Linked DNA regions of Homo sapiens: region 1 is linked to region 2. The links come from fine-mapping of genetic effects on gene expression. A gene starts in region 2. The other region holds a variant in brackets. All regions are shown on one strand. Distances are from middle to middle. Region 1 overlaps LINC00466 (long intergenic non-protein coding RNA 466). Region 2 holds the start of LINC00466 (long intergenic non-protein coding RNA 466).

Region 1 (5,375 bases), 120 kb after region 2:
CCTTTACAAACCCATACTGCAAGATAAAATGGGCCAGCTGAGCTCTGAGCTGGGACAGAATTTTAATTTGTTTATCAATGGCTCTCACATGTGCAAGACCATAAGGATATTTGTCAGAGGAGTAACACTGAGGCTAAACTCTTTTGTTTGGCAAGTGGAGCTTGGAAAAATATGTATTGAACTGTAAAAAAAACAGGCTAAATGGGGGGAAAAAGGTAAACGTCTTAAGAGAAGGGAAATAACTTACATTACTATAGACGTGATCTGAGCCTAACAGTTTATTGTGATTTTGACTTTTAAAAAATGCTTTTAGTTATTGCTTTTTAAAAAAAGAGGTGTTTTAGGAGCAACAGAACAGTAATGGGATTTTTTTTTCATTTCAAATTCTCTGATTTCTAAAGGAAATCTAAAACCTATGAAGGGATGGGTGGGGTCATTTGTTAATGGGAAGATGGGTGTTAATTTGTTGCTTTTTGTTGTCTGTTACAACGTTGTATAACTTAGCAGCAAAAACAGCGGAATTTGCCAAACATGCTTTTTATATGTAAAAAGTACTTTTTGTAAATGCCAGGAGGGCTCTATCAGTAACAGCTTTTCACATTTAAATGCGGCTTGCTCTCCTGTGTCTGCGGTCAGAGCCCACTGGATTTAGGAAACTAGATAATTTGTTGTGCTACCGATCAGAGCAGGAACTGAGAAGGCAAGACTGGCATCCGCCAGGGCTGCTTAGCACAGTGGTTGCCAGGGTTTATGTTTTGGTTATTGTTGTTGAATGATCCTTATTTGTAATCTCTTTTTCTGCTTGAGATCCCCTTTTATTTTTCAGAATTGTGGCTTGCATTGTAAGAGGAGCCTGTGAATTCAGAGGCAAGTCTGCTGAGGACCGAATGTTCCTGTCCATAAAAACAGAAGTCTGGCCTGGGCTCCTCTCTTGGGTGAATTTGCAATGCCAGATCCTCTCTATCAGTTTGGTTTTGTTTCTTGTATCTCTGGGAAGGCAGGCAGACAGCACGGTCACCTGTGAATGCAGCTACAATTGGCTTAGCTGCCTCACTGATAAATGTGCCCCCAGTAAGCTACAAAGGGATTACCAGCGTTCTCAGCAGCTAAAGGTGAGTTTCAAGAACAGGAAGGATTGCTTCAAACTGTTCTCCTAGCATTTCATTTTAATATTTTGCGTGACAGAGCACAGAGCCGATGGATATGAACACATTTAACTCCAATGACCAATGTGGTGCAGTCTCTGAAAACATGGAGCCCGGTTCTGTGTCTTCTTTTGGATTCCATTTTCTCAATGTTGGACATTCTCCAAAAGGTCAGCCAGGAAAAGTCTCTGGATGCCAGACACCAGGCAGACCAGGCAGGCCAGCAGACTACTGGTGTTCATTCATTCCTCCTAGAGATGGGCACAAAGTAAAGGTTAATTCAGACCACTTGGCAAGTGCTTGCTTGTCCAGTGAAGTTTACAAACCAATTCATGCAGGTTGACCGCAAAACTCCATGTACCTTATTTGGTCTTTCACAATGTAACCCATCCAAACAAAATCAGACCTTGATTGAAGAATAACTATGGTTTACAGAATATTACATTGAAAACAGCAGAGGGTTGGAATTTAAATTATTAACATACTTTTAGGGCATTGTCTAATACATATTATGAAGACATTTACTTTTTTTTAATTGAGAGGAACTAGAAAGCTCATGTATTAGAAGGTACTGTGAAACCTATCTTCAGTAGCTTCTTTTAAATTCAGTTTTGAATCTTCCTGTGTTGAAATGTAAGCTGATCTAAAGTGTAATCTTAGATGGTCTCATCTGAGAGAAATGTTATAGAAAGGAGGTGGTATTTATAATAATAGTAGCTACTGTTTATCGATTGCTCTATGCCAAGTACTTTCTTTACTAGCATTATCTTATTTAATCCTCATAAAACCTGTGAGGCAGGCACTATTATTAGTCACATTTTATAGATAAGGGAAATGAAATTTAGAGAAGTGATATAACTTGGTCAAAGTCACATAGTGAGTAAAGGGCAGAATTAATATTTGGACTCTGGTCAGCTTCCAAAGCCTTTTGTACTTACGGGGGTAAGCAGAAACTTACCGCAGGCACAGCACTGCCTCCTCAAAGTATCTAGCTCTGTTCTGTCACGTGTAGGGTATGTATATAAAATCTTCTGTAAAAAGTCACTCAACTGCTCTGAGCTCAGTTTCCTCATCTTTAAAATAGAGATAATAATACCTCCTAGATAGGTTTATATGTGAAACTTTTATAAAAATAAAACCCTATATACAACCAGTTATTATTACCATGTTGAAAAAAGATGGTTTCAATTGAAGCAAGTAAACACAGTTGCCAAATAAATCTTTTAAAAACATCATTTTCTTAGTGACTTGATCCTTCTTAACACTCTATGGTGGCTCTCTGTTGTCTATCAGAAAAGGTCCAGACGCCTGAGCCTGGAAAGAAGCCTGGCCCACGTTCTATCCATTTACCCTGTGGCCTTACAGAGACAGAACCTTTGCAGAGCCTGCACTGTGCTTTTACTGTTCCCTTTCGTGGTTGGCTGAATATTGGCCTTCCAAAGATGTCTACATCTTAATCCCCAGAACCTAGGGAACCTGTGAATACATCACCTAACATAGGAAAAGGAACTTTGAGGATGTGGTTAAGGATCCTGAGATGGTAAGTTTATCCTAGGTTGTCTGAGTGGGCCCAATAGTAATAATAACAAGGGTCCTTTTAAGAGGGAGGCTGGAGAGTCAGAGGCAGTCGCAGAAGATGAGACTATGGAAGCAAGGAGTTGGAGTGATGGGAGGAAGGGGCCACAAGTCTGGGGATGTGAGTGGCCTCAGAAGCTGAAAGAGGTGAGGAAACAGATTATCCACTGAAGCCTGCAGAATGAACACAGCCCTGCTGATACTTTGATTTTAGGCTTCTAACTTCCAGAACTATCAGAGAATA[T/A]ATGTGTGTTGTTTTAAACCACTCATTTGGTGGTAGTTCATTACAGAAGCAGTGGGAAACAAATGCATTTTTCATGACATGATCGTTCCCAGTGCTGCTCTTGTGCTCAGGCTGTTTCCATCCCCTGAAATATTTTCCTTTCCCTTCCACTTTTCTAATCTTACTTTCATGCTCAAGTCTCACTTAAAACCTACAGCAGGTAAATTATTTACCATAGCACCAACAGACCACTTGACCATACCCTAACATGTGTTGCTCATTTATTCATTGATTTCTCAAATATTTGTTGATTACCTACCAGGTTCTTGGGACATAGCCTTCAAGAAGCCTATGGTCTAAGAAAGGAGGCAACAGGGACTTATTAATACAGCTATGAGAGAGGAGAATGTGGAAAGCTATGTGGAGAGAAACCTGACCTATCTGGGGTGGGCAGGGAAGGCTTCACGAAGGAGATGGTGGTTGGTAGGAGTTTTGAAGCTTCAGATCTCCAATTGTTTCATATTTCCAAAACAATTGGAGAAGAGTAGTAGAGTGGTTAAGAATACGGCTTGAGAATGAGCGCATCTGAATTCAGATCCAAGCTTTGCCACTCCTTGATCTGTTTCTCCCTCTGTAAAATAAGGATGACAGTAATGTTAGTATCTAACTCACAAATTATAATCCGTTTATAGGAATACCATTTACATAATAAACATTAAGTGCTTATTTGTTATTTCAATTTCTCAAGGGCAGCTACTGTTGTATCAGTCTCATTTTGCATTTATATAGTGCTGGACACATAAACTAGCTCATTGAGAGTATATCTACAGATATGTATACATTTTTTTTTTTTTTTGAAATGGAGTCTCGCTCTGTCACCCAGGCTGGAGTGCAGTGGTGCGATCTTGGCTCACTGCAACCTCTGCCTCCTGGGTTCAAGCGATTCTCCTGTCTCAGCCTCCTGAGTAGCCGGAACTACAGGTGCACGCCAGCACGCTTGGCTAATTTTTTTTTTTTTCTTCTATTTTTAGTGGAGATGAGGTTTCACCATATTAGTCGGGCTGGTCTCGAGCTCCTGACGTCAGGTGATCCACCGGCCTCGGCCTGCCAAGGTGCTGGGATTATAGGCTTTTGTATTTTCTGCAGGTTAGCATATTAGCATAATGCTCAGCATATAGCTGGTGCTTTATGAATGCTCACTGACTTGGCGTGGAGCACCAGAAAGTCCTATCTACAGTTGCACATTTGGAAAATGATAATGCTTATTTTCATGCTGTCTTCACTCAACCACCTTCTAGGTATTTGGGTTAGGGCAGTCTTTATTATAACAACAGAGCTCATGCTTAGGGTATTGCATAGAGGCACAGATGGGTTTACCATGAAGCTAAAGGCAGATTTACTGTGAATCTTATAAAATGTAACTCTTTCATGGGCCCCTTCCAAGGCCCTGTACCTAGTTTTGTGTTTGTAGTGTTGTATTCTTTTTTCTCAAAGAGAGCTCCTAGAATTATATAAGCTTCATGTCCCACAAGACCTTGATATCCTCCCACATGTTGGCTAAGCATATGAGCTTTGTAGACAGACTGCCTGGGTACAAAGCCAGTTCTACTAGTTATTAGCTGTGTGATCTTCTCTGTGCCTTAGTTTTCTTAGCTGGAAAATAGGGTTGACAGTAATGCTACCTTCTTCATAGGGTTGTTGAGAGGATCAAACACACTAATCTTAGTAAGCATACTCTAAGTGATAGCAGTTATTATTAATTATGTAGAGCCTTAGGAAGTGTCCAGGGCTTTTAAGGTAAGAGTAGCAGTTATGAGAGAAGGCCAGAGTAGAAGCTTCATGACAGCAGGAATCATTTTGTCTTCTTCACTTCTATCCCCAGAACCTTAAAAAGGTGAATGCATATTGTGCTCTTAACCACTATGCCAGAGGGCTGCACTTATTACATATTATTTTATGGTCTTATAAAATAAGATGTTTTTTCTCCAACTGGATTGTGATAATAGCAACTTACTTTTTTTTTTTTTTTTTTTGAGACAGAGTCTTGCTCTGTCCCCAGGCTGGAGTGCAATGGCGTGATCTTGGCTCATTGCAACCTCTGCCTCCCAGGTTCAGGCAATTCCCCTGCCTCAGCCTCCAGAGTAGCTGGGACTACAGGTGTGCACCACCACGCCTGGCTAATTTTTTGTATTCTAGTAGAGACAGGGTTTCACCATGTTGGCCAGGATGGTCTTGATCTCCTGACCTAGTGATCCGCCCGCCTCAGCCTCCCAAAGTGCTGGGATTACAGGTGTGAGCCACCGTGCCTGGCCAGCAGCTTACTTTTATATAATTCTAAATAGGATTATTATCAGGATTATTCTATACAAGATTATTATTTTATATAATTCTACATAAGATTATTCATTCTTCCAGTAAATATTTATGGCACA
Region 2 (5,375 bases):
CTGGGGAAGGGGGTGGAGGACGAACAACTCCCAGCTGCCGGTTCCATTTGTTGCGCTTTTTTCCTTCGACACAATAAAAGTCAAATTAATTGATTCATACCATTAATTACGGCGCGTAGCGTGAAAAGCAACGCTTCCCCTCGGTTAGAGATCTATTGTGCTAATCTCTTGTTCAATCAGTGTTACCATCTGATGCTGGGTCCGGCCCTTACAGAAACTTTTCGACTCGATTAGCTAAATGATGAGACGTGCACAACCTACTGGCTGCGGCCCCGACGTCCCGCGCCCGCGCCGGCCTAATATCGATTTCCAGCGGAGGCAGAGGATTTTTCCGCGGCCGCTCTCGGCTCAGGAACCGGCCGCCGGCTTTCTCCCTCCAGGCGGACCATAGCGCCTGCACAACCTCCGGGGGCGGGAAGGAGGCGAAGCGGCGGCCGGGGAGGGCGACAGGAAGGTTCCTGCTGGCCTTGACGCAGGAGGCCGCCCCAGCGGAAGGGTCCGATCCCGACGCGGTGCAGGGTCCTGCCGGAGACCGGCTAGATGTCGGGCTAAATAAATTGTTTGCCGCGTAGTTGCAGTTTGCAGCTAAAAGCTCACAGGTCGTCAGTTACCGCCAAGCTGTAGGACAGAGACGGAAGAAGCGAGACAGATACAGAGAGAAAGTGAGACACATGTAGTGGGGGGAAGAAAATGTGATAAAGGGTGTATGTGGATAAAAAGTTTCTGAGTCTCAAAGGGTTATTGGAGAGATAGAGGGAGAATGAGTAGACACACACACGCAATTATGAGTTTGAGTGACTCTTTGAGTCTCAACAAGCGAACTTCCCAGGAGAGATTTAAAAAGGAAGATGGCAGCCAGCTGCCTCACCTGCTCAAATGTTTGAAATGTTTCAACCAAAGGAGAATGGAATGAAACCCCTTCGGTTCCTCTGGAGCGGGCAGAGTACATGGTACCCCGCTGGGAAAGCCACCTGGACGCGGTGGGAATGAGGGGTGCGGGGAGTGGGGATCTAGGTTCTAGCAACAGGAGGCAAGAAGAATGGAGTCCGGATCGATAGGAAGGAAATTGAGACGTCTCCAGGGGAGGGGAGATTTAGTGTGTGCGTCCAGTGGGGGGATGGGGGGGAAGAAATGGATAGAAAAATTTATGATGGAGAAAGGGAAATTAATTACAGCTCATTTTGGGTTCTTAGGTGGTCAACACTGGAGGAGGGGCACGGTTAGAGTGCGGAAGGCGGGAATTGCCCACCTACCCCTCACCAGGCCCAAGTGAACCCATATGCCTCTTTTCTCCTCTTTTAAGTCAGAGACAGTGCCAGTGGCTTGAATAAGTCGTTGGCGCGATGTGAGATAGAATCATCATGCCCGCGCGCGGGTGCACTTTTCTTACAATACGGGGAGTTGGGACCAGGTTCCGCGGAGTGAAGGGCGCGTCCCCCACCAAGAGTAGTTACTCTTTGTCCAAGAGGGAGCAAAACGTGGGTGGGACTATTAGAAAAATTCCCCTCCTTTCTCCCCAACACCCCCGCGCCCGCAACAATCAAAGTCTGCTGCTTCTTGAAAATCTTCATAGATTTGTTAAACTATTACCGGCCTCTTTGTCTGGATGGCCGCCACCAAGGAAGGTGGGAAAGGGCAGAGGTGGTACCCAAGGCCCCAACCCACCCAGATTACTTCCATTTCCCAAAGCGGGGGATTTTCAACTCTCTTACCCACCACTACCCCCTTGTATACCTCTCCGGATCTTTTCGGGGTGGAAAAAAAGAGGCTATTTTAATGTTCTTGTTTGGATTTGCATCTCAAAACTTCATTTATTTTCAAGATGTCTGCCACTCAGGGTCCACGCCAAGGCGTGCCTGTAAATGGCGAGAGACCAAAAGGAAAGGAGGAGAGAAAGAGGAAGAGAGAGAGGATGGTTTCGAATTTATTTATATTGGAAATATATAAACATCCATTCTGTAAAAGGCAACACGTTTAATTAACGATGAGAGAGCAGTTAGGGGCAGAAAGCTAGTAAAATTGTGTGATAAATTTATGGCATTGTTAGCGTGCTTTTAATTATGGCTATTATGTTAATTATTTCACATTAGCATGGAGTTATCAGCAGCATGTCGGATTTAATAAAAACGAGCCTTTCTCTCGAAAATTGTTCTTTTCATCCACGAGGAGAAAGGTCCTGGACAGGATCGGGGCTTAAAAATGACTTGGCATTGAAAGCCGGAGTCTTTCTGACACCGTTTGGAGCGATGCGGCCAGGCCCGGCTGTCCGCTGGGTCCCTCCAGGCTACCGGCAGCTCGAGGAGGAGCCCAGGGCTGGGTTTTTAGGAATTCACCATTTTCACCCCCTTCGGAGCCGACACTTCATCATGCGAGATCATTCTGTCAAACAATATGATGCTGCTCATTTTTATCTGTCCCGCTTTACAAAATCCCCATTCAGCCGGCCGAGGAGCAACAAAAGCCTCTGAGCAGCTCCGCAGCCACTGGCGGCCACAGCCTCCCCGGCGCGCGAGAAAGGCGAGAGGGGCCGAGGAAAGCAGGCGGCGGGCGCGCGCCCCTCTCCGCCGGAGGGAACGCTGCCTGCCGGGGCCTGCCAGCCCAGGTGTCGGGTCCTCGGGTGTGGCCCGGGCGGGACACGCCTCCCTCAGGCCCGCGCCCGCCCTCGGCCTCCCTGCAGGCGCCGGGCGAAAGCCCCCAATCCCTCCCCTCAAGCGACTCGCCCACCCAGGCCACATCGATTCTTTAATCACCGCCGATCGATTTATTGGGAGCAAATAAATAGACCGTTTTGGAAACGTTTCAATTGCTGGCTTGACGGTTGGGGCGCTGACGCGGGAGGGCGGGCAGGGCCGTGGGGCGCGCGCGGGAAGGGACTTGTGGGAAGGAAGGGAGCGGAAAGGCCGAGCGCCACCCGCCCCGGGAGTCTCCAGAGCAGCGCGCGGGGCAGACCTCCTCGGGTCCTCCGGCGCTTCGGTCTCCGGAGACGCCCGGCCTCCTGAAGGGTTCGGCTTGTCCTCCTCTGGCGCTCAGCTCCCTCTGGCGGCCGGGCTGGCAGGACCTCAGCGCCCAGCCCTTCCGTCTTGTTACGTCCAGGCAAGTTGGCCTGGCTTTCGGATGCCTCTGGACAGTCCCCGTCCAGGCCCGCGACCCAGCCCGAATGGAGGCCCCGGGGCCCACAGAGCGCGGCCTCCCAGGCCTTCCAGCCCTGGCTGCGGACGCCGCAGCCTTCTCGCCCCTGGGCCGGACGCGGCCTTCCTGCCCAAGACCACTGGGGCCCCCGCCCCTCCCGGGACAGGGCTGTGGACAGGCCAGCTGCTGCCTTATTTTTAGCGCCATTCCATTCGCGCGGTTATATTTAACTCGACCCACTCCTCCGAGGAGGTCGCTCGGACATCGAATTCTCCACATCGCAGCTTGGGCCTGCCCGCCTTGCCTCAGGGGTAGTTCCTCAAGGGACAGATTGGAAAACCCCTGCTTAAGAATCCTTGACATATCTGGAGCTTGGAGAGGACGGGACTGGGGGAGAGATCTGGTTCTAGGGGCAGTGGCCACCGCGCCTGCAGTGCACTGCGTGGGGATTCCGCCTTGTGTGGGGCGGGGGAGGGGAGGAAGGGACAGGATCAGTCCTGTGGGAAGGATTCTCTGCGGGGAGTATTGTGTCCATTTCCTACTTCTGCATGACTCAGAACACTAGGTGACCTGGAAGACCTCTCACGACCCTGCCCTTGGAAAAGTTTATCATTTAGCGTGAGTGCAGGAATCCCCTCTTCTCTACCCTCCAGTGCACCCAACGGGATATTTGATTTCAATGGTATGTTAGCTCCTTAGTTCCAGCCCAGTCTTCCCTTGGCAAAATCTTAAAAAGACCATGCCAAAGGCTCACTCACATCCTGGGGAAAGGACCCACTTGGATAACATACGGAAACACCATTGTGATACACGCTTTATTCACACAGAATGTCAGTTAGCAAACAATGCAGAAGTCATGTACTAAAGGTACACTAACAGATGTGACATGGATCGCGGATATCGAAACACATTTTTTTGTTTTTCTTTGAGACAGGGTCTCACTCTGTGTCTCAGGCTGGAGTACAGTGGTGCAATTGTAGATGGCTGCAGCCCTCGACCTCCTGGGCTCAAGTGATCCTCCTGCCTTAGCCTCTCGAGTAGCTGGGAGTACAGATGCACACCACCACACCCAGGTAATTTTTTATTTTTATTTTTTGTAGAGATGGGATCTCGCTCTGTTGCCCAGGCTAGTCTCAAGCTCTTGGCCTCAAACGATCCTCCCACCTCAGCCTCTCAAAGTGCTGGGATTAAAGGTGTGAACCATCCTGCCAGGCCAAAACACATTTTAAAAATTTAAATTCTTCTAACATTTTTAAAGAAACAAGTTTTCCTTGGGTCAAAGCTGCCTTTTTTGGTAACTCTCATTTTAATCCAAAATTTCTTGGATTTAAGTCATACCCACAGCTGAATTCAGGGGGAGAGGATATATAAGTATACAATATATATTTATTTACTCATTTATTCCTTATTAGTAATTTATTGAACTGTTGTAGACCTGGAAAGTACCAGGAATGAAAAGAAGAATTAAACCCAAGGTTCCTTAAGGAAGAACCAGGCAAGAGAATCAGTGTTTGTCATGCAGGTTGATAGGTGCCATGGCAAGGGGAAACAGCGCAGAGGAGGGCCTTTCTCACTGGGTAGGGATAGAGAAAGTGTGAAGCCTTCAATACGGAAGATGCTACTGACCAGCTACCTCTGACTTTAGGGGTTTTCAGGGGAGATTGGGGAGAAGTAAGTTAGAACCCGGGATACTTTGGGAAAAGAAAGTGCTAAGTTGGATGCCTAATGGTACTTCTGGACAGCCAGAAAGTACTTGGTCTCAAGGGAAATGGACAATAGATGTATGATAAGGAAACAGAAAGGGATGGAAGAAGAGAGAAGGGAAATGTAAAAATTGAAATTTGCTTAGACATTTTGTCTAGGTATAGTACATTTAGACTACATGGAAGTATTTGACTAACAAACACATGGAAGAAATTTAAAAGGGAACGTAGATAAAGGAAAAGATCCTTTGAAAAGAAAATATTCAAAAGGCTAGTTGTTAGACCCAGCTGTTTTTCTAACCTTATCGTATTCATCAAGGGCCAGACACTGGAACCACAAAGGTGAGTAAGAAGATAGATTCCACCTTTAGAATGTTAATTCCAGAAGGGCAGGAATTTTTATCTGTTCACTGTTGTATCCCTAGCCTCCAGCCAAGTACTAGTGGTGTAGGGGTGGAGGTGTGGCTCAATAAATATTGCTTGAATAACCCGATCAGTAAGACACATTCTCACTCTAATGGGGGACTTATTCAGGGAAGTCCA

What was found.
Region 1: its variant is fine-mapped to the expression of LINC00466 in tibial nerve (GTEx, PIP above 0.99).

Annotation. Positions count from the first base shown.
Region 1 is chr1:63,194,453-63,199,827 of GRCh38, reverse strand. It overlaps LINC00466 (long intergenic non-protein coding RNA 466), which reads left to right. Exons shown (of 12, transcript NR_038252.3): 5 at 808-1,112. It overlaps LOC105378770 (a long non-coding RNA gene), which reads right to left. Exons shown (of 3, transcript XR_947454.3): 2 at 3,381-3,574; 3 at 1,119-1,396. Among named protein-coding and RNA genes, the nearest start is that of LINC00466, 120 kb to the left of the region's middle. RefSeq lists enhancers at 1-198, 1-280, 272-1,026, 1,027-1,782. The variant T/A (reference allele first, on the strand shown) is at 2,965.
Region 2 is chr1:63,314,776-63,320,150 of GRCh38, reverse strand. It overlaps LINC00466 (long intergenic non-protein coding RNA 466), which reads left to right and starts at 2,894. Exons shown (of 12, transcript NR_038252.3): 1 at 2,894-3,093; 2 at 4,064-4,202. RefSeq lists a silencer at 2,569-2,748.